Linked DNA regions of Homo sapiens: all the other regions are linked to region 1. The links come from fine-mapping of genetic effects on gene expression. A gene starts in region 1. Each other region holds a variant in brackets. All regions are shown on one strand. Distances are between the middles of the regions. Region 1 holds the start of SGPP1 (sphingosine-1-phosphate phosphatase 1). Region 2 has its middle 24 kb from the start of PPP2R5E. Region 3 overlaps LOC105370532 (a long non-coding RNA gene). Region 4 has its middle 30 kb from the start of SGPP1.

Region 1 (8,107 bases):
TTTCTATCCTCCATCACCATAAAATTTATATACAAAACTCTTTAAGTAATTACTTGGAGCTATACTATTCCAATCTCTCCTTTGTCTTATAACGTACCTTAAAAAAATTCAGGCAGGGTGCAGTGACTCACGTCTGTAATCCCAGCACTTTGGGAGGCTGAGGGGAGTGGATCACGAGGTCAAGAGATCGAGACCATCCTGGCCAACATGGTGAAACCCCGTCTCTACTAAAAATACAAACATTAGCCGGGGGTGGTGGTGTGCGCCTGTAGTCCCAGCTACTGAGGAGGCTGAGGCAGGAGAATCGCTTGAACCGGGGAGGCAGAGTTTGCAGTGAGACAAGATCACACCACCACACTCCAGCCTGGGTGACAAAGAGAGATTTCGTCTCAAAAAAAAAAAAAATTCAAAGACTGGAATTTCAAAGAAGCTGAGACAGCAATCTTGAAGAAATACAACTAACTCCTCACTCATCTAATGGGTCAGAATCTCTGGGAAACTTACCCTGGGAAATGTAGAAATCTGCATTTTTAAACAACCCCGAGTTTGTACGCTGTCTTTTTTTTTTGAGATAGGGTCTTGCCCTGTCATCTAGGCTGAAGTGCAGTGGTGCAATCACACCTCACTGCAGCCTCAACCTCCCAGGCTCAAGTGATGCTCCCACCTCAGCCTCCCTAGTAGCTAGAACTACAGGCATGCGCCACCATGCCCAGCTGATTTTTGATTTTTTTTTGCAGAGACAGGGTCTCGCTATATTGCCCAGGCTGGTCTCCAACTCCTGGGCTCAAGGGATCCTTCCGCCTCAGCCTCCCAAAGTGCTAGGTGTACAGGGATGAACCACTACACCTGGCCATATACTGTCATTTTAAGTGTAAGTGAGGAATAATGAAACAGAAAGGATTAATTTAAAATGCTCTGGGTGGTGAATCTTGAGCAAATTTCAATGAGGGCAGAAACATTAAGTAGTAGGTAGTAGTGAAGTAGTAAAGCCAAGACAAAGGAATGGTATAGAACTCAGTTTCAAGAGATGTTTCAGCACGCCAGGCATATATAAGTAACCATACCTGTCCCAAATAAGCAGCTGAGGCACAGCAGATAGGCAAGACTGCCAACCAAAACTTATTAGAAAAACACCAGGCTTTCATTATTTAATTCTTCCCCCAGTTTCTAGGGGAAAGGCTTTCTATATAAGCCTCCAATGCAGTACAATACTAATTCACAGAGTAGAGGACCCAAACAGCTGAAGCAAAGGAAGGTACTTTTGTTTTCAATAGATAACAAGGATCTTTAAAAAAAAAAAAAAAAAAAAAAAAAGGAAAAGGAAAAGGAGGCCAGGCGCGGTGGCTCACGCCTGTAATGCCAGCACTCTGGGAGGCCAGTGGTGGGGAGGCCGATGAGCGGGGGGCGGCTAATTTTTTGTATTTTTTAGTAGAGACGGGGTTTCACTGTGTTAGCCAGGATGGTCTCAATCTCCTGATTGAGATCAGGAGATTGCAGAGAGCCGAGATTGCGCCACAGCACTCCAGCCTGGGCAACAGAGCGAGACTCCGTCTTAAAAAAAAAAAAGGAAAAGCTGGCACTTGGGAGGCCAAGGAGGGAGGATAACTTGAGCCCAGGAGTTCGAGACCAGCCTAGGCAATATAGTGAGACCCCGACTCTTAGGGAAAAAAAAAAGGAAAAAGGTTAAAAAGCCATCTTGTTTTTTGTACTGGATTATTAGTCAAACATTTATAAACACAGAACTTTCATATAAAGGAGGCTTAGGCCAGGCGCAGTGGCTCACGCCTGTAATCCCAGCACTTTGGGAGGCCGAGATGGGTGGATCCCCTGAGGTCAGGAGTTCAAGACCAGCTTGGCCAAAACAGTGAAACCACATCTCTACTAAAAATCCTTAAAAAATTAGCTGGTGTGGTGGTAGGCGCCTGTAATCCCAGCTACTCGGGAGGCTGAGGCAGAGAATTGCTTGAACCTGGGAGGCAGAGGTTGCAGTGAGCCGAGACTGCACCACTGCACTCCAGCCTGGGCAACAGAGCGAGACTCCGTCAGGAGGCTTTCTTTCAGAACAACTAACCGAAAAATCATGCAAATTTAGAGTGAAAAAATGTAAAATAAGAAATTTAAAGCATTACAAGATTAATTTTAATGTAACTGGTCAGTTTGCACATCTGTAAAATGACAGTTTGAAACTAAGTGATTTCTAACATCCGGTCTACTTCAAAGTCTAAAATTCTATGATACGCAAATTTCTTAAACTTTGAGTTAAATATACTAGGTTGTTTAAAAACTAAATCTAAGCTTATTCTGATAATTCAAATAACCCTGAAATGTTAGAATATCAATATCCCATAAACGATTCAGCAGTACTGTTTTCAGACTTCCAGTTAGTATGTGTCCAGAACAAATAAAGAGCAAAAATAGCTATTTTCTCTTACTTTGACTGCTAATACTAATAGCATACAAAATAGCTACTCACTGAGAAGGCATCATAAAAGGCTCTATTGTTACAGAATCCTAAAAGTCTCACGAAAATAAGAGAAACATCATCAGCTAACATCACCAGGCCAAACACAGCTCATTGAAAATCTTAAATTCTGAAATATTTAGATTAAATGAAAACTTCGAGATATTTATCTGTTACGCAAAACAGGTAGCACTGCTTCACAATCTGAACATCACCGTATAGCTCCTTTGGTTAAACAGAAAAAAACTTCCCATGGTACTCTTTCCTCCTAATTCTGCCATTCTTACTATGCACAATGCGTATTTTCCATGTACTGTAAGAGAGATGCACTACACAGAAGTATCCATGGGGACGAAATTTTATCTACACTGAAATTTAATGTGGGATAAGTAAGCTTATCATAATGGAGTTTTACACAGAATGTGTATTTCTCAATGTAAAATGATTTTGTGAAGTAAAGGGGGAAAAAATAGAGGAAGTTTGTTTCCTTAGAATCTCCACAATTACGCACTTTATTCTTAAAATAAGGGACTGGTCTGCAGGATTAACAAATCTTACAGTTCAAAGACAGATAAACATTGGAAGGCCAAAAGAAGTAAGCAAAATAAAAACGATTACCATTAAAAACTCTTCCCTTGGCAGTTTTCAGAGAGGGTTAAAAAAAAAAAAAATTTTCCTGATTGTCAGGCTGACCCTGCTGTCATATTTGCCATTTTTATAAACCCACTAGTTTGATCAAGAGCCCTATCTTTAAGAATAACTTTTAAACCATGCATTTTTAGAGTTAATGAGGCAATAACACTATAGTATTACAGTTGTAGCTCAACAACTGTTAGATACTACAGATTAGTGATCCAGAAGATAATCAAACTTTATCAGCAAAGTAGCAACCACACCCCTTAAAAACAGAACTCACCCTGTGCTCCATTAACTTCCATAAAGGGAACTTCGATGAAAATCGATTACTTCATTGCTTGGAACTAGCATGTTTGTTTTGGAATTACACTAACGTTTTGTAAACACTGTCTCACGGTAAAGCTAATGACTTTACCTCTTTCTGAAACAGTTTTAGGGAAGAAGGCACCATATATTACGGTGAAACTGGGTCTTAGTTTACATAGCGATTATTTAAAAAATTCACTTCCACTGTGCATTACAAGAATTAAAGCCGTTTAAAAAACTCAACCAAAGCCCAATGACAATGTATTACTCTAGGAAAAGTGTGTCCTTTGGGTTCTAAGGCATTAAATTGGAATTTAATATTAAAATAGAATTCAACGGCTAAGTATCCAGTTTCCCCCAATCACTTAATTTTTCAAAACCCAGAAAGGGCCTGTTTGCGAGTATTGTGAAAACCTGTGGAAAGAGAGGCTTTGGAGGGGAACGGTCGAATTAAAATAAATGCAGAGAGCAAAGAGAACTCCGAGTTCTTTGAACTCCCCCAGGCTGAACAGGACGAGAAGGAACCCTACCTGCCAGCGGCCATAGGTGAGGAGGACCATAGAAATGGGGATGGCGGTGCCGGACATGGCATGGGTGGAGGGCATGCTGTACTCAGAGTTGTAGAAGACCTCCAACTTGACCACGGGCGGCGAGGCGGGCCTCGGCCAGCGGATGATGTCCTTGGTGCACTGGCCCAGGTACATGACCAGCACCCAGATGACCACGAGCCTCCGGCCCACCAGAGGGTCCAGGTTCCAGATCCAGAAGGGGAAGAACAGGATGTAGAAGAGTTCGTTGCCCAGCTCCGTGCCGAAGCAGAACAGGCAGTAGAGCGGCCAGTTGCTCACGCGGGCCAGCTGGCCCTCCTCGCCCGTCAGCGAGTTGCGGCGCAGAGCGCCCGCGCGCCGCGGCGAGGCCGGGCCCAGCTCGGCCGCCAGCCCGTTCCGCACGCCGTTGGGGGCGCCGCCGCCGTCCGGCTTGGCCGGGCACTGATTGCGGTCGCTCCCGGGAGGCTGGGGGCCTCCAGGCGCCCCTGGCTGCCGCCCTCGCAGTCGAGGGTCTCCGGCGAGAGGCGCCTCCGCTTTCTCATCCTCCCTCCGGTCTGCTGAGCGGCGCGGCGGCGCTTCCACCCCGCACAGCCGCTGGAAACGGGCCACTTTCTGCGGGTCCTGCAGACGGCCAACCAGCTGGGCCAGGCGCTGCCTCAGCGACATGATAACGGAACCCCCGGGAAGGCGGGCCGGCCTCCGGCGCAGCCCCGAACTGTCCCCGCGCTCCTGGCCAGCGGCAGCGGAACCGGCACAGCGCTCTACCCTCCGGAGTCTGCCGGGTGACGGCGCCACAGGCCGCGCGCCCCCGCCCCGCGCGCGCCGCGCCCCGCCCCGCCCAGCCCCGCCCCCACCCGGGCTCCCTGAGGGGCCGGGCCGCGCGGGTCCGCCCTGAGCGCATCCGGCCGTGGCTTGGCGCTGAGGATCGGCGGGCGGCCGCTTTGAGGTCCCGGGTAATATCCACCAGCAGGCGTCGCGGCGTACGTCTGGTGGGACGCGGCGTGTCCCCCTGCTCCACCTTCAGCCCTTCTTCTCCGCGGGCTAGTGTCGCCGGATTCCCTCAGCCAGAAGTTGACTTAAAGAGGCCACGATCCCGGTGCCAGCTTGCGCAATGCCTGTGACCAAGCAGCCGGGCATCCTGCTGGCACAGAACCAAATGGTGAATGATCAATGAAGGCGAAGCAACTACCATGAGTTCGGAATCATTCGACTCAAGTAATTAACAAGTAATTACAGAGCTGTCCCAGGCGACTGATGTTCGGAAAACCATGTGCCAATTGACCAGTGGTGACAAGACTACATGTAGATCCCAAGACAGGGCCAGGTGATATTAACAGGTGTGGTCTGCAAAAGAAAAGCCAGCCACCTACAAATTCAAAATACTGTGTCATTTATCAAATATTTTGGTATATGTTAAGGGAGCACAGGTGTTCTTAAGTGTAAAATTTCCTTTTCCTAGATTCTAATACCTAGAGGGCTTGCACAGAATAAATGTAGAGAATGAATGCAGTGTATAGATTTTTGAGTTTGGTAACGTTAATTTAGACGCTTAACTTCCGTGTCTCACAAGTTACCAACTTGACTTCTAGCTAGAGCAGTTTATAAGGTCTCTGAACTCCTCAGGTCAGGTGAATGTCTTTTATATATACCTAGAGAGAGAGAGATGAGACAGGGTCTCGCTATATTGCCCAGGCTGGTCTCCAACTCCTGGGCTGAAGTGATTCTCCTGCCTTGGCCTCTCAAAGTGCTGTGTTTACAGGCGTGAGCCACCACACCCGCCATGATCAGGTGAATGTCTGTAATTAAAGAATGTGAACTACTTCCAAGAAACAGGCTTGAAATTGTCCCATGCCCTTAAAACAGTAGAAATACTTTCCTTCAGGCGTGGTAGTTCATGCCTATAATCTCAGCACTTTGGGAGGTCGAGGAGGGAGGATGGCTTGAGTCCAGGAGTTTGACAACAGCCTGGGCAACATAGGGAGATCCCACCTCTACAAAAAATGAACAAAATTAGCCGGGCAGGGCTGGGCACAGTGGCTCACGCCTGTAACCCCAACACTTTGGGAGGCCAAGGCGGGCGGATCACCTGAGGTCGGGAGTTCAAGACCGGCCTGACCCACATGGAGAAACCCCGTCTCCACTAAAAATACAAAATTAGCCGGGCGGGGTGGTGCATGCCTGTAATCCCAGCTACTCGGAGGCTGAGGCAGGAGAATTGCTTGAACCAGGGAGGCAGAGGTTGCGGTGAGCCGAGATCGCGCCATTGCACTCCAGCCTGGGCAACAAGAGTGAAACTCTGTCTCAAAAAAAAAAAAAGAAAATTAACCGGGCATGGTGGCCCACACCTGTAGTCCCAGATAACTGGGGGACTGAGGCGGGAGGATTATTTAAGCCCGGGAGGTCAAGGCTGCGGTGAGCCCTGATTGTGCCATTGCAATTCCAGCCTGGGTAACAGAGTAAGACCCTATCTTAAAAAAAAAAAAAAAAAAAAAATTTCATTTCGCAGGGACAGGTACTCTCCTCCTCCCACTCCACTTGCTAGGCTGTGGCCATAGAAAGAGGAATAAATCATCACCCATGCTCTCAAGTTGTTCACAGTTTAGGGGAGATAAAGAAAGACAGGACTACTTCTAGAGTATAGAGAAGATGGCAAGTGTAAAACAGACATAAACAGCATGCCTCAGAAAGGAGGACAAGTTTGACTAGGAACAGGAAGAAAGGTGTTAGGAGGTGATCCTGTAGAGCTGGATTGTTTTACAGAGCAAAATATGAATAGGTGAAGAAGCCCATTTTAGGAAGAGAAAGTGAAGGAAGATAGGGATATGCAAAAATGTATTTGGTAAACAATAGTCCATAGAGACCAGGTGCAGTGGCTCACTCCTTTGATCCCAGCACTTTGGGAAGCTGAGGTGGGAGGATCACTTGAGGTCAGTAGTTTGACACCAGCCTAGGCAACATGGCAAGACCCTGACTCTACAAAAATATTTTCTAAAAAATTAGGTGGGGGGCTGGTGCAGTGGCTCATGCCTGTAATCCCAGCACTTTGGGAGGCCAAGGCTGGTGGATCACTTGAGGTCAGGAGTTTGAGACCAGCCTGGCCAACATGGTGAAACCCCATCTCTACTGAAAATACAAAAATTAGCCAGGCATGGTGGCAGGTGCCTGTAATCCCAGCTACACGGGAGGCTGAGGCAGGAGAATGGCTTGAACCTGGGAGGTGGCAGTTGCAGTGAGCCAACATTGTGCCTCTGCACTCCAGCCTGGGCAATAGAGCTAGACTCAGACTAAAAATAAAGAAAAATAAAAAAATTAGCTGAGTGTGATGGCACATGCCTGTAGCCCTAGCTACTTTTAAGGCTGAGGTGGGAGGATTGCTTGAGCCCAGGAGTTAGAGGTTACGGGGTGCTACGATTGTACCACTGCACTCCAGCCTGAGCAGCAGAGTAAGACCTTGTCTCAAACAGTAAAAATTAAAAAATGAAAAAAAAAACCAAAAAACAATAGCATATAGCATAGAGTAGCAAGGGTGATTGGAAATGGGATTACAAAGGGAGGATAGGATTAGGTTGTAAATCCTTGAATACCAAAGGGATTTAATTTTGTAGGCAGTGGGAGCCATGGAAGGCTTTTAGGCTAGGGAGTGACACCATCAGAACTGTGTTTTAGAAAGATAACTGGGAAAGAAATCAAAGACGATTGTCAGAGGTCAGAGAGTGAAGGCTAGGTAAATAATTAGAAGATTATTGCAGTCATCAGGTGAGAAACAATGACAGCCTGAACTAGGACCTTGGTTCTGGGGGATTGGAAGCGGGGGATAGATTTGAATGAAATTTTGGAACTAGGAAAAAATTAAAATGTTTCATTTGAATTCATAGGACTGCAGGCAAATATTAGTCTGTTCCTGGTTAGAACAAACTTGTGTCTAATTTCTTTTTTTTTTTTTCTTTTTTGAGACGGAGCCTTGCTCTGTCACCAGGCTGGAGCATGGTGGTGTGATCTCAGCTCACTGCAACCTCTGCCTCCTGGGTTCAAGCGATTCTCCTGCCTCAGCCTCCTGAGTAGCTGGGACTACAGATGCCTGCCACCACACCCAGCTAATTTTTTGTATTTTTAGTACAGACAGGGTTTCACTGTGTTAGCCAGGATGGTCTCAATC
Region 2 (8,107 bases), 160 kb before region 1:
GTTATTCTCTAGAACTGCCATGAGCCTAAAGCCATCCAAAGCATATAGAAACCACCAGGTATATCTTCCTTAGGTTCTGGAGTGACATCAGAGGGAATGACAGAGTGAAGACTTTTGAAAATATACTCTTTCATTAGAACACTGAAAACACTGACAAAAATTGTCAAAATCAATTTCTTTGGAACACTGTACAATAACAAACGTTTTGCAGCAAGTCCAGGAGCATTTATTCGAGAAAAATGGCTGAATCTTGGTAAGAACAGTGAACTTTGTGACAATTTATCTTGTCCTATTCTCATCCCCATCTTTTTAGGTCCACAGTAATCTTGAAAACCAACTACTCTGTATCATGGCGAACGAACAGCCTAGTAGCCACTGTAGAAAACCAAATGGGTTTAGAGCTCCCCAAAGCACCATTCACAGAGAATTCTCATTATTTGACCTGTCTGGCAGTTCCCTGGAAACCTCCACTCACAGGACTTGTCTTTATCTGATCTGACTCAGAACTCAGTGCAAAAAGTCTTTTCCCTCAGGGCATTGGTCAAAAACAATCAGTAACAATTATTTAACATTACAGTTGCTATGGTAATGATAACAACTAGAGCAAACCAGAAGCTGAACAAAAAACCCGAAAAGAGAATCTGGGGGCTGGGTGCGGTGGCTCACGCCTGTAATCTCAGCACTTTGGGAGGCTGAGGCAGGTGGATCACCTGAGGTCAGGAGTTCAAAGCAAGCTTGGCCAACATGGTGAAACTCCATCTCTACTAAAAATACAAAAATTAGCCAGGCATGGTGGCACATGCCTGTAATCCCAGCTACTCGGGAGGCTGAGGCAGGAGAATCACTTGAACCCAGGAGGTGGAGGTTGCAGTGAGCCGAGAGTGCACCACTGCACTCCAGCCTGGGCAAAAGAGCGAGACTCCAAAAGCTGAGGTATAAGATATCCACAGGGGGCTTTGGAAAACTCTTTAACACATTCCTTGGAATCTACAAGTCCTTGAGCATGTGCAAAGTTGTGCACTTGCCCAGAAAATGCCTGAAAGTCCCTATATTCTCATTTCTGTCAGACCCTGAGGCCCTTCACAAGCAGAAAGTAAAGGCTAAGGCAGAGTTGTGAAAATCCTGCCTGAGCATTGAAGGCAGGCCCCCCCACACAGTCTCTCAGGAAAGGCTGCGAGACTTATTGGTTCCTGGAATTTGAGGAACTCTGTGTCCAGTAATCAGCTGACTACTAAGCTAACTGAACAGATTTCAGTGCCACACCCTTGAAAAGGAATACTGACTTGGCTGGGTGCAGTGGTTCATGCCTGTAGTCTCAGGTCTTTGGGAGGCCAGGCATTTGAGACCAGGCTGGAAAACACAGTGGGACCTATCTCTACAACAATTTAAAAAGAAAAAGGAAAGAGACTCAGCTGGGAGCAGTGGCTCACGCCTGTAATCCTAGCACTTTGGGAGACCGAGGCAGGTGGATCACCTTAGGTCAGGAGTTTGAGATCAGCCTGGCCAACACGGTGAAACCCTGTCTCCACTAAAAACACAAAAATTGGCTGGGCGTGGTGGCGGGTGCCTGTAATCCCAGCTACTTGGGAGGCTGAAGCAGGAGAATCTCTTGAACCTGGGAGGCGGAGGGTTGCAGTTTGCCAAGATCACGCCATTGTACTCCAGCCTGAGCAACGAAGCCAGACTCCATCTCCAAAAAAAAAAAAAAGGAAACAGACAAAAAGGCATAAGAATGATATAATGGACTTTGGGGACTCAGGGGTAAGGGTGAGAGGGGAATGAGGGATAAAAGACTGCACACTGGGTATAGTGTACACTGCTCGGGCGATGAGTCCACCAAAATCTCAGAAATCACCACTAAAGAACTTATCCATGTTATAGTCTTGCCAATGCACCACAATGTAGCAGTCTCTCCTTGCCTGAGGTAGTACCCAGAGTCCTTTGTCTCACAACCAAGAAAGTTAAGGAGCACGGACACCAAGGATGAGGTTAGAACAAAAGTTTAATAAGGGAAAGAAGAAAGCTGTCTTCTGCGGAGAGGGGACCTGAAGAGGGTTGCCATTTTTTACAGCTGAATGCAAAGGCTTTTATAAGAAACCAGTGAGGGCTGGGCATCTCATTTGTATAAGGCGTGAATTTCTGGTAGCTTACCCCATCCTCCTAGTGCGCATGTGAGCCCTTAGCTTGAGTTACTCCATATTGCTTTGTTCCCCTTACTAAGCAAGTGTCAGAGGATGGAATTTTCCATTGCGAGTATGTCTGGGCAAGTCACCTGGGTAACCTTTCTTATCTGTGAGACTGTGGGCATGTATTAGGCAAGCCCCCTTGTGCAAGTTCCCTTACCTGTGCCTGCAGGCTGTTCTTTTGTTTGAAAGGATTCAACCGAGGACCCACCCTAACTGCCTGCCTGACTGGGTTTTTTTCTTTCTCCTCTCTCATAACCAAACACCATCTGTTCCCCAAAAACCTATAGAAATAAAAATAAATAATAATTTAAAGAAGAAAATAAAAGAAAAAAACTAGCTGGATGTGGTGGTGCATGCCTATAGTCCTAACCACTCAGGAGGCTGAGGCAGGAGGATTGTTTGAACCCAGGAATTGAAGGCTGCAATGAGCTAGGATTGATTGCATCACCGTGCTTCAGCCTGGAAGACCAAGAAAGACCTTGTCTTTAAAAAAAAAAAAAATACAAACTTTACAAAATGGGTTCAGGAAGTCACTAAACAAACAAAGAAACAGCAGCAGTAAAACTCCTGGGGAAAGAAGGGAATCCAATTTCAATTATTGCCATGTTATATTATTTTGAATCCCCAGTTTCCAACAAAAAATTACACAACATGCAAAGAACAAGAAAGTGTGTCCCAGGCACTGGGAGAAAACAGTCAATAGAAACTCCCTGAGGAAGCCTAGACTTTGTACTTACTAAACTTTAAGTAAGATATTTAAAATATCTTTACGGCAAGCATGGTGGCTCATGCCTGTAATCCCAGTACTTTGGGAGGCCGAGGTGGGCAGATCACCTGAGGTCAGGAGTTCGAGATCAGCCTGGCCAATATGGTGAAACCCAGTCTCTATTAAAAATACAAACATTAGCCAGCGTGGTGGTGGGCGCCTGTAGTTCCAGCTACTCAGGAAGCTGAGGCAGGAGAATTGCTTGAACCCGGGAGGCGGAGGTTGCAGTGAGCCGAGATCACGCCATTGCACTTCAGCCTGGGCAACAGAGCGAGACTCCGTCTCAATCAATCAATCAATAAATAATAAATTACCTAGGTGTGGTGATGCATGCCTGTACTCCCAGCTACTCAGAAGGCTGAGGTGGGAGGATCACTTGAGCTCAGAAGTACAAGGCTGCAGTGAGCCATGTTCATACCACTGCATTTCAGCCTGGGTGACAGGACAGGAGCCTGTCTCACAAAAAAAAAGAAAAAAAAAAAAAGAAGAGTTAAAGAAAAGCATGAGAAAGATATCTCAGCAAATCTCAATGAAAACATGAAGAAATAGAAATACTTATTTCTCTACATATAACCAAATAGAAATTTTGGAGTTGAAAGTATAACTGAAATGAAAAACTCTCTAGAGGTGCTCAACAGTAACCTCTAGTTTGCTATACCCGTTCGTTACAAAAGCTTGAGGCCAGGTGCGGTGGCTCATGCCTGTAATCCCAGCTCTTTGGAGGCCAAGGTGGGCAGATCACTTGAGGAGTTGGAGACCAGCCTGGCCAACATGGTGAAACCCGTCTCTACTAAAAATACAAAAATTAGCCAGGCATGGTAGCACGCGCCTGTAATTCCAGCTACTTGAGAGGCTGAGACATGAGAATGTCTTGAACCTGGGAGGTGGAGAGGTGGAGATTTTGGTGAGCCGAGATGGTGCCACTACACCCAGCCTGGGTGATTATGACTCTGTCTCAACAACAACGATAAAAAAAGCTTGGGAGTGTGTTTGGGAAGAGACTGCTATATTATCATTGACATCATTAGTTATCTCTGCCTTTTCCTTTCTGGAATGTTTGAGCAGAAAAGACCTGGATAGACCCGGCATGGTGGCTCATGCCTGTAATCCCAGCACTTTGGGAGGCTGAGGCGGGTGGATTACCTGAGGTTGGGAGTTCGAGACCAGCCTGACCAACATGGAGAAATCCCGTCTCTACTAAAAATACAAAATTAGCCGGGTGTGGTGGCGCATACCTGTAATCCCAGCTACTCGGGAGCCTGAGGCAGGAGAATTGCTTGAACCCAGGAGGCGGAGGCTGTGGTGAGGCGAGATTGCGCCATTGCACTCCAGCACTCCAGCCTGGACAATAAGAGTGAAACTCTGTCTCAAAAAAACAAAAGTCCCTGATAACTCAGTTTGTCTTGACCTCTCATTTAATAGGTAAGAGAACCAGATAGCTTATGAGATCTTGCTAAACTCCTCACCTTAGCTCCCAATGTAATTTATGATGTCTTGATGTAATGCCTTGAGACCTACAAATTAACATAACCAAGAATTTAAAGTAGATATGTTGCAGGGATGGAGGAGTGACTATAAATCTCATCTATTCCCATTTGAGCTAGCTCCATTCTCCTCCAGTGTTTCAAGAAATACCTTCAGGGAACCGCTGCTTTCTTTCTCCCACAATCTGTAGTTCTCTTGCTTTCCAACTTGGGCCCGGCAGGATCGCTCTTGCAAAGAAGGATGG[CAAG/C]AAGAAGAGCCTTTCTGCCATCAGCATTCACAAGCGCATCCATGGTGTGGGCTTCAAGAAGTGTGCCCCTCGGGCACTCGAAGAGATCCAAAAATGTGCCATGAAGGAGATGGGCACTCCAGATGTGCACATTGATACTAGGCTCAACAAAGCTGTTTGGGCCAAAGGAATAAGGATTGTCCCATACCGTATCCCTGTGTGGTTGTCCAGAAAACGTAACGAGGATGAAAATTCAACAAACAAGCTCTATACTTTGGTTACCCATGTACGTGTTACCGTTTTCAAAAATCTACAGTCAATGTGGATGAGAACTAACCACTGATTGTCGAATACATCAAATGAACTTATAAAACAAACAAACAGAAATGCTTTCTATTTCTCAACCTATGCTTTTTTTTTTTTTTTCTTTTTTGACAGTGTCTCACTCTGTGGCTCAGGCTGGAGTGCAGCAGTGGCACAATCTCGGTTCACTGAAACCCTGCCTCCCAGGTTCAAGTGATCCTCCCACCTCAGCCCCCAACTAGCTGGGACTAAAGGCGCATGCCACCACACCTGGCTAATTTTTTTTTTTTTTTTTTGTATTTTTAGTAAAGACAGGGTTTTACCATGTTGCCCAGGCTGGTCTTGAACTCCTGAGGTCAAGCAATCTGCCCACCTCAGCTTCCCAAAGTGCTGGGATTACAGGTGTGAGCCACTTTGCCTGGCCTAAAAATGCTTCATTTTTTTTGTTTGTTTGAGACGGAGTCTCACTGTGTTGCCCAGGCTGGAGTACAGTGGTGCAATCTCAGCTCACTGCAACCTCCACCTCCCGGGTTTAAGAGATTCTCCTGCTTCAGCCTCCTGAGTAGCTGGGCTCACAGGCGCCTGCCACCACACCCGGCTAATTTTTTGTATTTTTAGTAGAGACAGGGTTTCACCATGTTGACCAGGCTGGTCTCAAACTCCTGACCTCAGGTGATCCACCCGCCTCAGCCTCCCAAAGTGCTGGGATTACAGGCATGAGCCACTGCACCCGGCCGTAAAAACACTTTCTTTACTGAAACAGTGGCATTGCTGCTTTGATAGACTGTTATGATCACATGGATTGGATTTGGGCCACATACACAAATGCTTGTACAAGCATTTGTACTAAGCAAGTGCTTAGTACAAATTTATTTCAATGAATATTGATTAAATTAGTAGTCCTTTCCTCAGCTTCTTTCTTGCTGCCATTTCTTTGCATTTAAGGGGTAGGAAGTAGGAGGAACAGAGAGACAGTTCTTTCCCACAGGTAGGCAGTAACATGGCATCATCACTGCTATCCCGGGTCTCCTTTCCATTTCAGAAAATCCAAAAACTCATTTTACAGAATTGATCAAATTATTGAGTCCTTGAGCAATTTGAATAGCACACAAGCCATATCTTAATTTTTGTTTTGTTTTGTTTGTTTGTATTTTTGAGACCGAGTTCCATTCTGGTAGCCCAGGCTGGAGTGCAATGGTGTGATCTCAGCTCACTGCAACCTCTGCCTCTGGGTTCAAGCAATTCTCCTGCCTCAGCCTCCCAAGTAGCTGAGATTACAGGCAACTGCCACCATGCCCAGCTAATTTTTGTATTTTTTTTTTTTTTTTTTTTAGAGACAGGGTTTCACCATGTTGGCCAGGCTGGTCTTAAACTCCTGACCTCAGGTGATCCACCCACTTTGGCCTCCCAAAGTGTTGGGATTACAGGTGTGGGCCACCACACTGGGTCCATACCTTTGTATTCTGATCACTTGATTATCTTTCTAGCTCTACTACCTTTCATTCTTCCTACTTTACACTTTATGCAAAAGCTAAGAAAAACTACTTGAAATTTCCTGAATGCACCTGAAAATAATGCAACCACTCTTTGCATTGATTTTATATAAAAAATGAAGATGGCCGGGTGTGGTGGCTCATGCCTGTAATCCCAACACTTTGGGAGGCTGAGGCAAGCGGATCATTTAAGGTAAGGAGTTCAAGACCAGCCTGGTCAACATGGTGAAACCCCATCTCTACTAAAAATACAAAAATTACCCAGGCATGGTGGCAGGTGCCTGTAATCCCAGCTACCTGGGAGGCTGAGGCAGGAGAATCTCTTGAACCTGGGAGGCGAAGATTGCAGTGAGCCAAGATTTCGCCACTGCACTCCAGCCTGGGCAATAGAGGTATACTCAGTCTCCAAAAAAAAAAAAAAAAAAAAAGGCCAGGCACGGTGGCTCATGCCTATAATCCCAACACATTGGGAGGCTGAGGTGGGCAGATCACTTGAGGTCGTAGTTCGAGACCGGCCTGGACAACATGGTGAAACCCTGTCTCTACTAAAAATACAAAAATTACCCGGGCATGGTAGCACGCGCCTGTAGTCCCAGCTACTCAGGAAGCTGAGGCAGGAGAATCGCTTGAACATGGGAGGCTAAGGTTGCAGTGAGCCAAGATCGTGCCACTGCACTCCAGCCTGGGCAACAGAGTGAGACTCCATCTCAAAAAAAAAAAAAAATGGAGATAAGAATATGTGACAAAAATAGCTAATTGTCTCCCATTATCTGTTCTTCCCTTTCACAGGTATAGAATGCCAAATTTTTCGGTGGAGACGTGATACCCAGAATAAATACTATATTTCCCAGAGAATTTTGCTGCTAATTGTGGTTAGGAGACTGTGTTGGGCTAATGGGATGGATGTGGACTAAGAAACTGCATAATATGATAGTTGTAAAGTTCCTTTGGATTTCTTCTGTGCTATCTGGAGTGTGGATGTGATGGCTGGAGCACTAGCCAATGTCCTGGACCATAAAGGATGAAGGCCACACCTTGCTTTTGGAATAGTTGGATAAAGAAGTCTAGGATCCTGAGGTCTTTGTAGAGACAGAAATAAATTGCTTGGTTGTTTAAACCACTGTTATTTTATTTTATTTATAATTTTTTTAAGACAGAGTCTGGCTTTGTTGCCCAGGCTGGAGTTCAGTGGCACGATCTCACCTCACTGCAGCCCAACTTCCGCCTCCTGGGTTCAAGTGATTCTCCTGCCTCAGCCTCCCAGGTAGCTGGGACTTCAGTAGGTGTGCACTATCATGCCTGGCTAATTTTTGTATTGTTAGAAGAGACAGGGTTTCACTATGTTGGCCAGGCTGGTCTCAAACTCCTGACCTCGAGTAATCCGCTTGACTTGGCCTCCCGAGTCCTGGGATTACAGGTGTGAGCCACTGTGCCCAGCCTCACTGTTATTTTAGGTCTCTGCTCCAAGCAGTGGAAACTGCTTGCTTTGTAAAAGCTGTTCCCTCTGCCTGACAGTTTGCTTGAAGTATTGGTCTAGGTTGCCTAGAGAAACAGAACTAATAGGATGGATGGATGGGAAAATAGATAGGTAGACAGACAGACAGATAGATGAGAGGGGATTTATTAGGAGAATTGGCTCATGCAGTTA
Region 3 (8,107 bases), 64 kb before region 1:
AAGGAAATATATTGAGCACCTACGGTATGCTAGTGGGTATAGAAACATGAATAAGACATCCTTAGTTCCTCAATGAATTATCTAATGGCAGAAACAGATGCATAAAAAGTAAATACACTTCAGGGGATTCGATGCTGAAATAAAAGCAAAGACAATGGCCTCTTCTATGGAAAGGCAAAAAGCAACACTTTGCCCCAGTTTGTCTGTCATTTCTGGCTCCATGCCCTTGATAATGCTGGTTTGTTTGGTTGAGGTTTTGTGTGTGGGTGGCTGTACAGAAGGACAACATGACATTTTCTCTTACCAGTCCTGCCCTCTCCCGCCCGCAAGAAACAAAGGCTTTTTCTTCCTTGCTCACCAATCAGTTTGTCCATTATGCTGTGATTCTATTTCAGTCAGGATGCGTTATAAGACAGTAATTAAGAAGGCCAGGCCAGGCACAGTGGCTTACGCCTGTAATCCCAGCACTCTGGGAGACTGAGATGGGTGGATCACCTGAGGTCAGGAGTTCGAGACCAACCTGGCCAACATGGTGAAACCCCGTCTCTACTAAGAATACAAAAATTAGCTGGCCGTGGTGGTGGGTGCCTATAATCCCAGCTAGTTGGGAGGCTGAGGCAGGAGAATTGCTTGAACCCGGGAGGTGGAGATTGCAGTGAGCCGAGATTGTGCCACTGCACTCCAGCCTAGGCAATACAGTGAGACTCTGTCTCAAAAAAAAAAAAAAAAAAAAAAAGGTAATTCAAGAATATTTAATGGAGACTTTGGGACCTGAACGGGGGTTAAAGGATGGATAACAGCCAGATGGCAGGAGTGGCCAGTGCAAAAAATTTATCTCTGGGAAAGAGCACATGCATGGGGACTAGTGAAGCAGTCAGCCTGGCTGCAGAGAAGGTGTTGCTAGTTAATGGGAGATAAGGTTGGTACATGGGATAAAGTTATGGGCATGAACACAGGCACAGGTGTTTATATCTGAAGTAAACAGGGACTCTGTAGGCTCTTGAGCAAAAATAACATGATAAAATCAATACTTGAACATTAGTGTGAAAGTTAGCAGGATGCAAAATGAATTCCTGGTGTGCCTCCTTCCCAAACTCTCCACACTGGATTAGCCCCCACACTTGGCATGGAGCTAAATGAAGACTATCCCTCGAAGTTTTAGCAACGAAAGGGAAAAAAGAGTCAATGGCTGCCTATAAAGAGCAGCAGGGTTAAACAAAGATAAATTTGAAAAGAAGAGCAGATTTGGAAGAAAACAGCAATATTCAGTTTTTAATTCACCAAATATTTACTGAGCCTTTAGTACATGCAAAACACTGCTAAGTACTGTGCCGAATATACAGTTCCTCTTTTCAAGGAGAGAGTAATACAGGTACACAGCTCCCTATCATGGAATGCAAGAATGCTGGGAGAATAGGAATGAAGAAGAGAGTATTCTAGACAAGTGGCTCTCAAACTTTTTGGTCTCAGGACCCCTCAATACTCTTAAAAATTATTGAAGGCCTCAAAGAGCTTTTGTTTATGTGGGTTTTGTCTATCTATCAATATTTTCAATATTAGAAATTAAAACAAAAATCTGGCCGGGCGCGGTGGCTCATGCCTGTAATCCCAGCACTTTGGGAGGCCAAGGCAGGCAGATCATGAGGTCAAGAGATCGAGACTATCCTGGCCAACATGGTGAAACCCTGTTTCTACTAAAAATACAAAAATTAGCCGGGCATGGTGGCACGCGCCTATGGTCCCAGCTACTTGGGAGGCTGAGGCAGGAGAATCGCTTGAACCCATGAGGTGGAGGTTGCAGTGAGCCGAGATTGAGCCACTGCACTCCAGCCTGAGCAACAGACCAAGACTCTGACTCAAAAAAAAAAAAAAACCCAAAGTCTAAAAAGATGTATTTACCCATTTTTGAGTAGCGATATTAAACCCATTACATGTTATCATAAACATTTTAAGAAAAATATATTTTCTAAAACAAAGAAAAATAGGTACAACAAAGAGTTATTCTGTTTAATGTATTTGCAGATCTCCTTACTGTCTGGCATATAGAAGAAACCTGGATTCTCATATCTGACTCTGCCTTCAAACTATTGTGATTTTTTTTTTAAGTATTTGAAGCAAACCTGTCCTCATACAGACATGGAGTAGGAAAAGGGAGGAATTTTCAGACCCCTTGAAAGAGTATTAGGGACCCCCAGGAGTCTTTGGTTCACATTTTGAGAACCCCTTTTTTAAACTATAATTAGTTATATAATCCTCCAGTAGGATTTATTTGTCAAAAAAACTCCCTGCATTCCCAACACTAATGAGAGCTAATAGAATGGGAATGACACTTGTCAGTTTTTTTGTTTGTTTTTTTGCCCAGGCTGGAGTGCAATGGCGCGATCTCGGCTCAAGAGATTCTCCTGCCTCAGCCTCACGAGTAGCTGAGATTACAGGCGCATGCCATCACACCCGGCTAATTTTTGTATTTTTTGTAGAGATGGAGTTTCACCGTGTTGCCCAGGCTAGTCTCAAACTCCTGAGCTCAAGTGATCTACCTGCCTCGATCTCCCAAAATGCTGGGATTACAGGTGTGAACCACCGCGCCTGGCCTAAATTGTTTTTTTGTAATCTAAAAAGAGGAAACTAAATTTTACTAATTGTTGTGCCAAACCCCTATTAACCTCTGTAAGGAAGGCACCAGGTTCAAGAGGCCAAAGGAGAGACCCAGAACCAGCAAATAAGACCTGGGGTTTTATTAGGGGATTACATACATGGAAGAGAATCCAGTGGCAGCAGGCTGGAAAGGGGAATTGCCTTAATTAGAGAAATGGTCCAGTGGCAGTGGGATGGACAAGATATCTGTCTTACCTACAATCCAATGGTGGCAGGTTGGACAACATGACCCCCTGCCTATAGTCCGGGGCTGGTGCACTGGACATCACAGCCACATGGCCCAGTGACGACTGGCTGCGCAGAAAAACCACAATCATTTGCAAATAGTATGCAATTAATATAGCATTTTCACCTAACACCCTCCCTCTAACAACCTCCACTTGGCAAGCTGCATCCAACCCAAAACTCAGGGCCTAAATCCCCTGTATGGCCCCTGGTCCACTGTGTTATGGGATCCTTGGGGGTGTTGCTTTTCCAGCCGGAAACCTCTGTGGCCAGTGGCGCCTTTGCCTGAGTTTTGCTCAGGCCCATTGGGCCGAATCAGCCTGTCAGGCTGTGCTCAGCTCATGCTACCTGCCAAGATCCCACACCTTCTGAGATGAGTGGAGTGGAGTGGTGACAGGTGTGTGAGCAAGTGAGCACGGGGTCCAGCCACTGCAAACAGCCAGGCACATCGGCTGCAGTAGGGCAGGCAGCTCCAGGCACCACCACGGGCACTGGCTCCCTGCGAAGCTGCAGCTGAACCAGGTGTACCACAAGTAGCTTCCACAGCTGGCACTGGGGAACGTGGTGCTGCCCAGAAGCTTGGAGATGCCAGGAAATGCAGTGTCAAAGAGTATGTCACAGCCTTGGCTTGGGGAGCTTCTAGGTCTGAGCTCATCAAAGGGCCACAGCTCTTCTCTCCTTGTCTCCTGCAATGTGGCAAGCAAGGGGTGTGTTTCAGCCCTGTTTGTGTTACAGCTCTTTTAGACCCGCCATGCGGCAGGTCCTGAGTTCTCGTCCTGTGTCCAGAAAGAATGAGGTACGTGGACAAGTGGAGGGTGAGCAAGGCGAAGAAGAGCTTTACTGAGCAACAGAACAGCTCAGAGACCCACAGTGGGTAGCTCCTCTTTGAAGGGAGGGTGTCCCATCAAGTGTTCGGCTCTCAGCAGAGAGGAGACCCTGGGGTGGGTAGCTCCTCTCCATAGCTGGTCATCCTGTCATCTCCCTGAGTCTGGCTGAGTCAGGTTTTTATCAGCAAGGAAGTGCTTGCTGATTGGTCCACAGGCAGCCATGGGCGGGCCCAGAAAAAAGCACAAATTCCCACTCTGGTCTGCAGGGCTGGCAGCCTGGTCCCCAGGCTTCACGCCTTCCCCAGCTTGAAGGCGGGGCTTCACCAGGGACCTTCCCCTTTCCACCCAGGAGCCTGCCTGCCTCCTGCCACTGTTCATGGTGCCCAGGCTGCTCTTGCAGAGTGGTGCCTGCAGCCCAGCACTGAGCTGCCCTCAGACCCCACTCAGCCTCCCTCCCATGCTTGTTTGTGCCCAAAGCCCGGAGAGGGTCAAGGCGGCAGGGGGCTGGCATGTCAGCACTGCCCCAAGAATGAGCACACCTGGCTGGATTGCAACAGCACCTTGGCTTGGCCTCAACTTTGCACCAAGAT[C/A]TGATTGGGCTCCAGGAGTAAGGAGAGGCTAGGCAGCGGGAGCAGGCATTTCCGACCCTGCAGCTGCAGCTTGGGCGGCTGCAGGTGCATCCAGGAGGGTGGGGATCCTGCCTGCTCCATGGAATACACAGCCCCAGCCGCGCCTCCCGGCTGCAGCCAGCATTGTCAGAGAGGCTGCTCCAGATGGGCTGCCACTGCCATGAACAGGGCAGGACAGGGGTTCAGATGTTCATCATTGATAAGGAAAAAATGTCCAGGTTGGCCACTCCCAGATTCCCTAGCTTAGAACACACATTCAGATGCATCTGCCATACAGGGTCATTCTCAGGGTAGGCTTCACTTATTGCTCTCAGGTGTGTTTATGCTACACTAAGATTAGTGTGTAGGTTGACATTTGCATCTTCACCAGTCTGAAGGCCTGATGGTCACATCAGGTAGGGAGTATCAGGGACAAGAGCATGAATTCCCTAAGTGTCACTCTCACTTGTTTGTTCATTTTCAGCTGACACATTGTACAATGGTTAAGTAAAAGATTTCCCAATTATAATATTTAGCCTTAAGTAACTTCAAAAAATGGGTGTTGGTTCCCTGCCCAGATTCTACTTACTGGTCATGGTCCCCATTCCCTACATGCTGTGACTCTTGGCTGCTACCAGTTCATACCTGTATCTTTCTGTGAAGAACTGACCATAAATGATGGATGCTACCTAATCAGGAACATCACACTCTGCCACCACCCTCCTGCACTAACTCCAGGCGGCCCATAGCCCACGACTGAATAATACAGGAATACTAAAGCTTGCTTCCTTGCCTCAAGAAGAGACAAGTCCATGGTGCCATCCACACTCCAGAGCTGCTCATGGGATCAAAATGAAGATAGATTTCAACTGAACCCATGTCTTTGCCTAGCTTCTTCCTCTGTCCTATTCTGTTTCTCTCACTCCCTTACAGGTTTCAGCTGACATCACTCTCTCAAAAGAATCGCTGGCACAGGAATCTTCATCTCAAGTTCTGCTTCTTGAGAACATAGCCTGAAACAAGCGTATGATTTTAAAACAATCATGCAAAGAGGACAAGGATTGAAAAGATCAATAATGAAGATAAAAGCAACAACAACAAAATGGCAGAACTAGTTCTTTTCCTACTTCTGGTATAATTTCTTCTTAGCCAAAATATGTGATAAAAATGACAGTTTAATAAAACCTAACAAGATGTCAGTTAAAAGAGAACTACAAAGAGGACTATTTGAAAAAAAAATTCTATCCACTTTCTTTTTTTTTTTTTTTCGAAATGGAGTCTTGCTCTGTCACCCGGCCTGGGCAACAGAGTGAGACCTTGTCTCAAGAAAATTTTTAAAAAGGCAGTATCTTCTGATATTAAGGAAGATGGGTATTTCTAGTGGAATTTCAATAAAAATTTTTCTATAAATAGGGTATAGGACTAAAAAATGAGTATCCTGATTTTTTACTACTTCTTTGAATCTTGGCATCTTTTTCAATTATGTTTCTCATCTATGATAGATATTAAAACCAATAATTAAGATAAATTGAATGTAAACCCATACCTCCTCAGCAGATCTGTAGAACTTATGTAAAAAAATAAAAATACAAAATAAATAAAACCAGACCTTCAAGCATCTTTATTTCCATGATATTAAACCAAGATTAAAAAAAAAAAATCTAACGGTGGCCGGCACAGTGGCTCACACCTGAAATCTCAGTGCTTGGGAGGTTGAGGCAGGAGGGTCACTTGAGGCCATTGGAGTTCAAGGTTGCAGTGAGCTATGATAATGCCACTGCATTCCAGCCTGGGTGACAGAGTGAGACATTGTTTCTTAAGTAAATAACTTTAATGATTACTATTTATAATTGTAGCAAAATATTTAAAAGTTATTAATAAATAAAGTAGTTGGAGTCTCCCTTACTTGCTGACTATAATAGAGAGTCAAAAGAGAAATGCCACATTGAGCCTTGGCCTTTCACATATTAATTCCACTCAAAACAGAAAGATGACTTAGTGGATGTCATATTCTCACCATTTTACCAAACACGTAAGTCATCAGGATCTATATCCTACAGCAAAAAAAAAATAAAAAAAATAAAAAATCAATAAAAACAGGTAAATCACTCTTGTACTCACAGAGGTGGGGAGAAGACAGCAGCTTCCCCCTTCAAACTTCCAAGAGGGCAGAAGTTTTGACAGATATTCCTAACTTACTAGCTGAAGCAAAAATGTACGAGAAAGAGAATGGGTTCCCTCAAAAACAAGAAAATCCCAAAGGTAGCTGGTTACATATATAATATACAAAAATCAATAGCTTTCCCATAAATAAAAAAAAGGTTAAAAATAAAATGAATACAAGAGCTCTTATATTATTACAAGAAGAAAGATTATATACCCAGGGACAAACCAAAGAAATGTGCAGAGCCTGTATGGAGCCAAATGGAGGCTATTTAAGATGACTTCAGTGTATTTTCCCAGAGTCAGCTCAGTTCTTACTTCAGGGAAGACTGCCCAGACACACCCCACCCCGCCAATTAGATAAAATCACTTATTATAAGCTCACTGTATTACCACATCTCTCTCCTCCTTAGCACTTCACAACTTTACATTTATTTGTGCAATTATTTGCTTGATCTCTATCTCCTCTTCTGGATTTCTTAAGATCCATGATTACAGATACATTACTTTAGTTACATTTATATCTCTAATGCTTAGCAGAGTTCCTGGTGTAATAAGTACTCAATAAATATTTGAGTGAATGAATGAGAGGAAAATATATGCCTGTAATCCCAGCACTTTGGAAGGCTGAGGCAGGAGGATCACCTGAGGTCGAGAGTTTGAGACCAGCCTGACCAACATGGAGAAACCCCGTCTCTACTAAAAATACAAAATTAGCTGGGCATGGTGGTGCATGCCTGTAATTCCAGTGACACGGGGAGGCTGAGGCAGGAGAATCGCTTGAACCCAGGAGGTGGAGGTTGTAGTGAGCCGAGATCATGCCATTGTACTCCAGCCTGGACAACAAAAGCAAAACTCTATCTAAAAAATAGATATATACACACAATATATATTATATATAGTATATTATATATATTATATATAGTATATATAGTATATTATAGTATATTATATATATTGTATATTATATATAGTATATTATATATATTGTATATATAATATATATATTATATACGTATATACACATGCTGTGCTTCATAGACAATATTGTAAAAGTTAAATCTACGTAAATTAATCTGTACATGGATTATAATGACAATCAGAATAGCAACACAGCAACAGCAGTTTGTTTTGTTTTGTTTCTGAGATGGAATCTTGCCTGTGGCCCAGGCTGGAGTGCAATGGCGCAATCTCGGCTCACTGCAACCTCCGCCTCTTGGGTTCAAGCAATTCTCCTGCCTCGGTCTTCCATGTAGCTGGGATTACAGGCGCCCGCCACCATGCCTGGCTACTTTTTTTGTATTTTTAGTAGAGACAGTGTTTCACCATGTTGACCAGGCTGGTTTCGAACTCCTGACCTCAAATGATCCACCCGCCTCAGCCTCCCAAAGTGCTAGGATTACAGACGTGAGCCACCGTGCCTGGCCAACAGCAGCATTTTTTGAAACTTGACAAAATGTTAGTATTAGGATTCATCTAGATTCCAGAGTTGCAAATAGTTGCACAACAATGTGAATGCACTTAATGCCACAAAACAGCATATGTAAAATAGTTAAGATGGTAAATTTTTTTTTTTTTTTTTGGACAGTCTCTCTCTGTCGCCCAACCTGGAGTGCAATGTTGCAATCT
Region 4 (8,107 bases), 30 kb after region 1:
AAACAAAGAATGGTAGTATAAGTGAAAACCATGGTCGGGTGCGGTGGCTCACGCTTGTAATCCCAGCACTTTGGGAAGCTGAGGTGGGTGGATCACCTGAGGTCGGGAGTTCGACCAGCCTGACCAACATGGAGAAACCCCATCTCTACTAAAAATACAAAATTAGCCAGGCGTGGTGGCACATGCCTGTAATCCCAGCTAGTTGGGAGGCTGAGGCAGGAGAATCGCTTGAACCCGGAAGGCAGAGGTTGTGGTGAGCCAAGATAGTGCCATTGCAGTCCAGCCTGGACAACAAGAGCAAAACTCTGACTCAAAAAAAAAAAAAAAGAAAAGAAAACCTTTACCTTAACTTTGAATATATATGTATCTGTCCTACATGAACTCTTTAACTGGTTCATCTTCGACATAATTAAAAAATCTCCATAAACAGAGGAATAGTGTTTGTACATAAAAATGGATAAATTTTTCTTCCATGATGAAATAACACTCTTGGACAATTTTTAAGTTTATTAATGGAGATAGGTTGAATTAATGTTTGGGGGAAAATACTGTAACTTGGCCTGGGGCAGTGGCACATACCTGTAATCCCAGCACTTCCAGAGGCCGAGGCGGGTGGGTCACTTGCGGCCAGGATTTTGAGACCAGCCTGGCCCACATGGCAAAACCCCATCTCTAATAAAAATACAAAAAAATTAGCTAGGTGTGGTGGCACGCACCTCTAATTCCAGCTACTTGGGAGGCTGAGGCAGAAGAATCGCTTAAACCTGAGTGGAGGAGGTTGCAGTGAGCTGAGATCACACCCATGCACTCCAGCCTGGGCGACTCCGTTTCAAACAAACAAACAAACAAAAGTATAACTTGATATACTATTCTATTATTTTGGGAACTCCAGAGCTGATATAGCTGAATTTCTAGAGGTACCTTTCCATAGGGTAATATTTAATTAATTAATCCATTACTCTTTGTTTAAATTTCAATTTCAGAACTATCACAAGCAGAGGGGATAAATTTTCTTTCTAAAAGGATCAAAATTTAAGAAATTAACATTGCGATTGAGTTATATTTTGGTTGACCATTTATTTTATTTTTTTAAATTTTTAATTTTTTTTTCCTTTTTTGTTTTTCCTTTAATTTTTAAATTTTTTTAAAAAGTAGAGACAGTGTCTCACTATGTTGCCCAGGCTTGTCTTGAACTCCTGGGTTCAAGCAATCCTCCCATCTTGGCCTTCCAAAGTGCTGGAATTATAGGCATGAGCCACCACACCCAGCCATGGTTGACCATTTTAAATTTATTTTCAGTCCATAAAAATAGGCCGGGCACTGTGGCTCACGCCTGTAATCCCAGCACTTTGGGAGGCCGAGGCAGATGGATTGCCTGAGGTCAGCAGTTGGAGACCAGCCTGGCCAACATGGTGAAACCCCATCTCTACTAAAAATACAAAAAATTAGCTGGGCGTGGTGACAGGCGCCTGTAATTCCAGCTACTCGGGAGGCTGAGGCAGGAGAATCGCTTGAACCTGGGAGGCGGAGGTTACAGTAAGCTAAGATCCTGCCATTGTACTCCAGCATGGGTGACAGAGTGAGACTCTATCTTAAAAAAAACAACAACAAAAAAATATATATATATATTTGTGGGCATGGTGGCATGAACCTGTAGTCCAAGCTACTCAGGAGGTTGAGGTAAGAGGATCTCCTGAGTCTAGGAGTTCAAGACTGTAGTGCACAATAATTGTGCCTGTGAATAGCCACTGCACTCCAGCCTGGACCACATAGCAAGATCCCCATCTCAAAAATAAAATAAAAATAAATAAAATTACTTAATTTAGAAAATTTTGGAATGGTAAATTATTATTATGCAATATGTGTGAACATAGATATATAAAGGTAACATTATAATCTTTAAATGATTCATGAACTCAATATGGTGACAATAAAAAAAGTGAGTTTAATTAATTGAGATTGATAGCCACATTCTACTAAATCAATAAAACAATTGGAACAGTTTTAAAATTTACAAGATATCATACCTATTAAAGATATGGAATGAAGGAAAATGCATGGATGACAGCTAGATAATTTTACTTGGAGTCGGAATTTTAAATTGGCAGTTATGAAGTACATGATACATAAAGAGACAACCTATGGACTAGGCACGGTGACTCACGCCTGTAATCCTAGCACTTTGGGAGGCCGAGGCACGTGGATCTCACTTGAGGTCAGGAGTTCGAGATCGGCCTGTTCAACATGGTGAAACCCCGCCTCTACTAAAAATACAAAAAACAATTAGCCAGGCATGGTGGTGGGCACCTGTAATGCTAGCTACTCGGGAGGCTGAGGCAAGAGAATCACTTGAACTTGGGAGGTGGAGGTTGCAGTGAGCCAAGATCACGCCACTGCACTCTAGCCTGGGTGACAGAGTGACACTCTGTCTCAGAAAAAACAACAACAACAAAAAAAGAGACAACCAATGAAATACATAGATGACCATAATTTTGAAGTTTTAGAAACTTACAACCCACAGGGACCTCAGGTTAGATTCCCTAATTATTGTTGCACGGTATCTCTCATGACATTTTTGTGAAAAAGAAAAAAGGTGAAAAAAGGGATATTATGAAAGTAAACATAAAAATTAAAAAATTTCCTTGCCACACTTAAGAATGAATACTGTTTTTAGTTGGTGTGCATGGGTGTGGTACCTGTGTGATAATATTCTGCATTGAGTTAGATAAATGCTTTTAATTTGAGAAGTATGGCTTAAAGTCTGTATTATGTTACATTTACACATTTTTGGCCAGTAAATTTAAATAGATACACAGTTAAAGGTACCAACTACTATTGCAATATTCTTACCATCCTGAGTCTATTATTAAAAGAGTTATTAAAAACATTCCTGATGCAGTTAACAAAGAACCTTGGCAAGTGAAGACCTCCTTTTACTTTTATCCGTTTTGTTATATATACAGTTACATTTGAGTGAAAGTAAGCCATAATTTTAAAGATTTTCTAATAGTATTTCACATTTATTGAACATTATGAATTGGAAAGTTTTGGATATTGTTGAACTATACAAACATTGGAAATGCTGGAAATTTTATAAAGGATAAAAATTTTAGTCATGTGTCTGAACAGTGAGTTTTACTGCTAGTGGATTAAAAGAAACACTTTTTTAGTCATGCTTGTTCAGAGAACTTAACTTTTATTGGAGTAAGATTGTATCCTCATGCATATGAAAAATAATGAGGAGGCTGGGTACGGTGGCTCATGCCCATAATCCCAGCACTTTGGGAGGCCGAGGCGAGTGGATCACTTGATGTCAGGAGTTTGAGACCAGCCTGACCAACATGGTGAAACCCCATCTCTACTAAAAATACAAAAATTAGTCAGGCATGGTGGCACACGCCTGTAGTCCCAGCTACTCGGGAGGCTGAGGCAAGGGAATTGCTTGAATCCGGGAGGAGGAGGTTGCAGCGAGCTGAGATTGCACCACTGCATTCCAGCCTGGGCAACAGAGTGAGACTCCACCTTAAAAATAATAATAATAATAATAATAATAATAATAATTAGGCTCAGATATTAATTGAACCCTAAACCTATTCAAAGATTTGTCCACTAAATGCTGTTAAATGGACTAGCCTCCTCTTAGTTTAACCTAAAGCTAAAAAGGATTAATTCTCTTCAGTTAGCTGTCTCTTGTCAAATATTTGTTTTCAGTAATTTAGGGCAAATGACCAAAGAAAGGAATACATGGATTGAAGAAGGATTAGAGTAGTGAAAATAGTTGTTTCATGTTTCAAAGAATGCTTTCAGTCTCTTTTATTCTTTATAGCATAAGCTGATTATTTTGTTTGACATGTTTTTACAGTGACTGCTATTGATAGCACCTCTT[T/C]GTTTTGGATGTTTTCTTTTATTTTCTTTTACTGACTTTGTTGGTTTAGTTTAGCTTATAATTCCAGCCTTTCCTTACTCTGCACCCCTACCTGGCTTTTGATGTATCCCTCTTTCTGTTGCTTACACAGAAAGGCTAACTTTTTTTCTATAAATAGAAATTCTAGACAACAGCTTAAGGGCACTGGTGGAAATGATATAGTTGTAGTAACTCCATGGTTTTATTCATTGTGCCTTCAGACCTTCTGGAAAGAGGATCCTTTGGCAAAAAAAAAAAAAGACTAGAAGAAGATACATAAAATGATAACAGTTGTCTCGCTTTTTTTTTTTTTTTTTTTTTTTAGACAGAATCTGGCTCTGTCACCCAGGCTGCAGTACAGTGTTTCAATTACAGCTCACTGCAGCCTCGAACTCCCAGGCTCAAGATATCCTCCCACCTCAGCCCCCTAAGTAGCTGGGACCACAAGCACATTCCACCACGTCCAGCCAATTTTTGTATTTTTTGTAGAGATGGGGTTTCACCATGTTGCCCAGGCTGGTCTCGAACTCCCAAGCTCAAGTGATCCGCCTGCCTCGCCCTCGCAAAATGCTGGGATTACAAGTGTGAGCCACCATGCCTGGCAGTCCCATGATATTTTGCCTTTATTTTATATTTATGTCATTTTCAAATTCTCTTAATTATTTTTACAATCTATAAAAATTAAACAAGACTTTATTTTAACTTGATTTTTAGTATACAATGAGTATTGCAAAGGTCAACAGTCCAAATGCAATAATTAAACAACTTATATCTAGCTATGCATTTCAGTTTGTTCCCTTTGAAAATTTATCCTACAGCCTTCTCAAAATATGAACAAAACATATGAAATCAAAGGGTACCAATTTTAAATGAGTGGTATTCAAACTTTTTTTTGCATGTTATTTATTTATACATTATATATGTATTTACTGTATTAATATATAACATACATTATGCAATATATAGACATTTTTAAGGATGAAATAAAAATATAAAGAGGCTTTTTTTTTCTTTTGAGACAGAGTCTCCCTCTGTCACCCAGGCTGGAGTGCAGTGGCGTGACCTTGGCATGGTGATGTGTGCCTTTATTCCCAGCTACTCAAGAGGCTGAGGTGGGAAGATCCCTTGAGCCCAGGAGTTTGAGGTTGCAGTGAGCTATGATTGCATCACTGCACTCTAGCCTGGGTGGCAGAGTGAGATCTTGCCTCCAAAAAATCTGTAGGTCTAGATTTTTTTTTTTTTTAATTTTAGCATATGTGCTGCAGAAGCGAGCACAGATTTTTTTTTTTTTTTTTTTTAAGAATATTTTAGGCTGGGCATAGTGGCTCACGCCTGTAATCCCAGCACTTTGGGAGGCTGCAGTGGGCAAATCACGAGGTCAGGAGGTCAAGACTAGCCTGGCCAACATGGTGAAACCCCTTCTCTACTAAAAATACAAAAAATTGGCCAGGCCTGGTGATGGGCACCTGTAATCCCAGCTACTGGGGAGGCTGAGGCAGGAGAATCACTTGAATCCAGGACAAGGAGGTTGCAGTGAGCCGAGACTGTGCCACTGCACTCCAGCCTGGGCAACAAAGCGAGACTCAGTCTCAAAAAAAAAAAAAGAATATTTTAAATTTATTTACATGCAGGCTGGGCACGGTGGCTCACGCCTGTAATCCCACCACTTTGGGAGGCCAAGGCTGGTCAGGAGTTCGAGACCAGCCTGGCCAACTAGGTGAAACTCCATCTTACTAAAAATACAAAAATTAGCCGAGTGTGGTGGCACACACCAGTAGTCCCAGCTACTCGGGAGGCTGAGGCAGGATAATCGCTTGAACCCAGGAGGCAGAGGTTGCAGTGAGCCGAGATCGCGCCACTGCACTCCAGCCTGGGTGACAGAGTAAGACTCTGTCTAAAAAAAAAAAAAAATGTTTACATGTTGTATTTCCATTATTTAAAAAAAAGATTTGAGAGTAAATAGCAGAAAAAGTAAGAACCAAATTTTTGCATGCCTTCGTGCTATACTTTGCATTCATTTTTTTGAGGATTGGATTTATCTACTAGTCAGGTTCAAAATTTGGCATCCCTGCTCGAAATCGTGTTTTCTAGAATTTTATAGGAATGGTTGAAAGCAAAAATGAAACTGTCAGGCACAGTCCATGAAGCAGAGGATGTGGGCAGAGCAAGGACAGAGTATGTCTAAGACTTACTTTACCATGTGATCTAGGAAGCCGTCACTGTACAAAGACAACCACTGCTGGTTTGAATTAAAATAATTTTTGGCTGCTTCTCTTCACCTTCTTGGAGATCCTTCCTCAGGAATAAGGAAATAATTCAGGAAATTCACGCAGGAGCTCAGAATGTATTTCCAATCTCTGTAGTCTCCATTTTTGGCAGGCACACAGATAAGGGGATGGGAAATTAATATTGAGCCACACACAGGGGGAAGAAAATCTAATGTTCCTGAAGAAAAGGAACCTTGTTCACTGAAACAAGAAAATATTAAGGAGTAAGGCTTATCAAGTATTAAATTTATATTTACTAAGCCACTCAGTGTTAGGTCAATATCCTAAGCAGAAAAGATCAAGGAGGTAATAAACTGAAAGAAATTTTTTTTTTTTACAAAGTTCTGAATCTCCATCTGCAATAGAGATTTGTTTTTGCATTTTGCTTCTCTTTTAGAGATTGAAAGTTAGAGATAGGATTGACACACTTCTACTTGTTTTTTAAGACTCAGCACAAATATTACTTCTGATGTGAAACTTTTGAGGCTACCCTGTAGTTTCCCTCCTATGCTTCCTCATAGCATATTGTATTTTTTTTTTTTTGAGACAGAGTCTTGCTCTGTTGCCCAGGCTGGAGTGTAGTGGCATGATACCAGCTCATTGAAACCTCAGGTGATCCTCCCACCTTAGCTTTCTGAGTAGCTGGGACCACAGGAGTGTGCCACCATGTCCGGCTAATTTTTTGGTAGTTTTTGTAGAGACAGGGTTTCGCCTTGTTGCCCAGGCTGGTCTCGAACTCCTCACCTCAAGTGATCCACCTGCCTTGGCCTCCTAAAGTGCTGGGATTACAGGCATGAGCCACTGCGCCAGGCCTGTACCTCTATTTTTATTTATTTATTTATTTATTTTGTGACAGAGTCTCGCTTTTCTGCCAGGCTGGAGTGCAGCAGCATGATCTCAGCTCACCGCAACCTCCGTCTCCCGGATTCAAGTGATTCTCCTGCCTCAGCCTCCCGAGTAGCTGGGACTATAGGCGTGCACCACCACGCCCAGCTAATTTTTGTATTTTTAGTAGAGACGGGGTTTCACCATGTTGGCCAGGATAGTCTTGATCTCCTGACCTCGTGATCCACCCTCCTCAGCCTCCTAAAGTGCTGGGTTTACAGGCGTGAGCCACCACGCCTGGCCTTGTACCTCTATTTTTGAAAAGCATTATGATATAATTGTTCCTTTAAAATAAAATGTGACTGAGGCCGGGCACCATGGCTCACGCCTGTAATCCCAGCACTTTGGGAGGCTGAGATGGGTAGATCATGTGAGGTCAGGAACTAGAGACCAGCCTGGCCAACATGGTGCAACCCTGTCTCTACTAAAAATACAAAAATTAGCTGGGTGTGGTGGTGGACGCCTGTAGTCCCAGCTACTTGGGAGGCTGAGGCAGGAGAATCGCTTGAACCTGGGAGGCGGAGGTTGCAGTGAGCCAAGATCGTGCCATTGCACTCCAGCCTGGGGGACAAGAGCAAAACTCCGTCTCAAAACAAACAAACAAACAAAAACAAATAAAACATGACTGAGACTATGTGTGTGTGTTTTTTTTCTTTTTGATCCACGGTACTGCAGGGTGAAAGAACTATTTTCCTTCCTACCTAAGGTTCATGACTGAGACCCCGTAACAAAAAATAGATTAACAAGAGAAAAGCATACACATTTATTTAACGTAAGTTTTACGTGATGCGGAGCCTTCATAAGGAAATGAAGAACCGAAGCAACAGTTAAACAGAAATGTTTTTATGCTAGATCTGATGAAGAAGTGGATAGTTATGGAGAAGTATGGCCGGAAAAAGGAGGTATGATCTAATGGCAGGAAGCTGGAGGGCATTTTGCAAGGCCTGTTTGTTCAGATTCTTCTCTGAGTTCCTGTGTCTTCATAGATAAGGATGTTCCTTTTCTTCAGGTATAGGGAGAATACTTCTCTAATGAGGGACTTATGACCTGC

Evidence for each region. PIP is the estimated chance that this variant, and not a neighbour inherited with it, causes the effect.
Region 2: its variant is the best candidate, but not a certain one, in a credible set for the expression of SGPP1 in whole blood (INTERVAL, PIP 0.55).
Region 3: its variant is the best candidate, but not a certain one, in a credible set for the expression of SGPP1 in whole blood (TOPMed, PIP 0.61).
Region 4: its variant is the best candidate, but not a certain one, in a credible set for the expression of SGPP1 in nasal epithelium (TOPMed, PIP 0.81).

What each region holds. Positions count from the first base shown.
Region 1 is chr14:63,723,328-63,731,434 of GRCh38, forward strand. It overlaps SGPP1 (sphingosine-1-phosphate phosphatase 1), which reads right to left and starts at 4,738. Exons shown (of 3, transcript NM_030791.4): 1 at 3,934-4,738. The coding sequence starts at 4,617. RefSeq lists enhancers at 3,884-4,385, 4,030-4,079, 5,040-5,229 and silencers at 4,340-4,439, 4,730-4,829.
Region 2 is chr14:63,563,310-63,571,416 of GRCh38, forward strand. It overlaps the pseudogene RPL31P5. Among named protein-coding and RNA genes, the nearest start is that of PPP2R5E, 24 kb to the left of the region's middle. RefSeq lists an enhancer at 443-1,265. The variant CAAG/C (reference allele first, on the strand shown) is at 4,682.
Region 3 is chr14:63,659,676-63,667,782 of GRCh38, forward strand. LOC105370532 (a long non-coding RNA gene) reads left to right here. Exons shown (of 3, transcript XR_001750790.3): 3 at 5,249-5,730. Among named protein-coding and RNA genes, the nearest start is that of WDR89, 22 kb to the left of the region's middle. RefSeq lists an enhancer at 2,771-3,771. The variant C/A (reference allele first, on the strand shown) is at 4,298.
Region 4 is chr14:63,753,558-63,761,664 of GRCh38, forward strand. It overlaps a transcript of SYNE2 not described here. Among named protein-coding and RNA genes, the nearest start is that of SGPP1, 30 kb to the left of the region's middle. The variant T/C (reference allele first, on the strand shown) is at 3,887.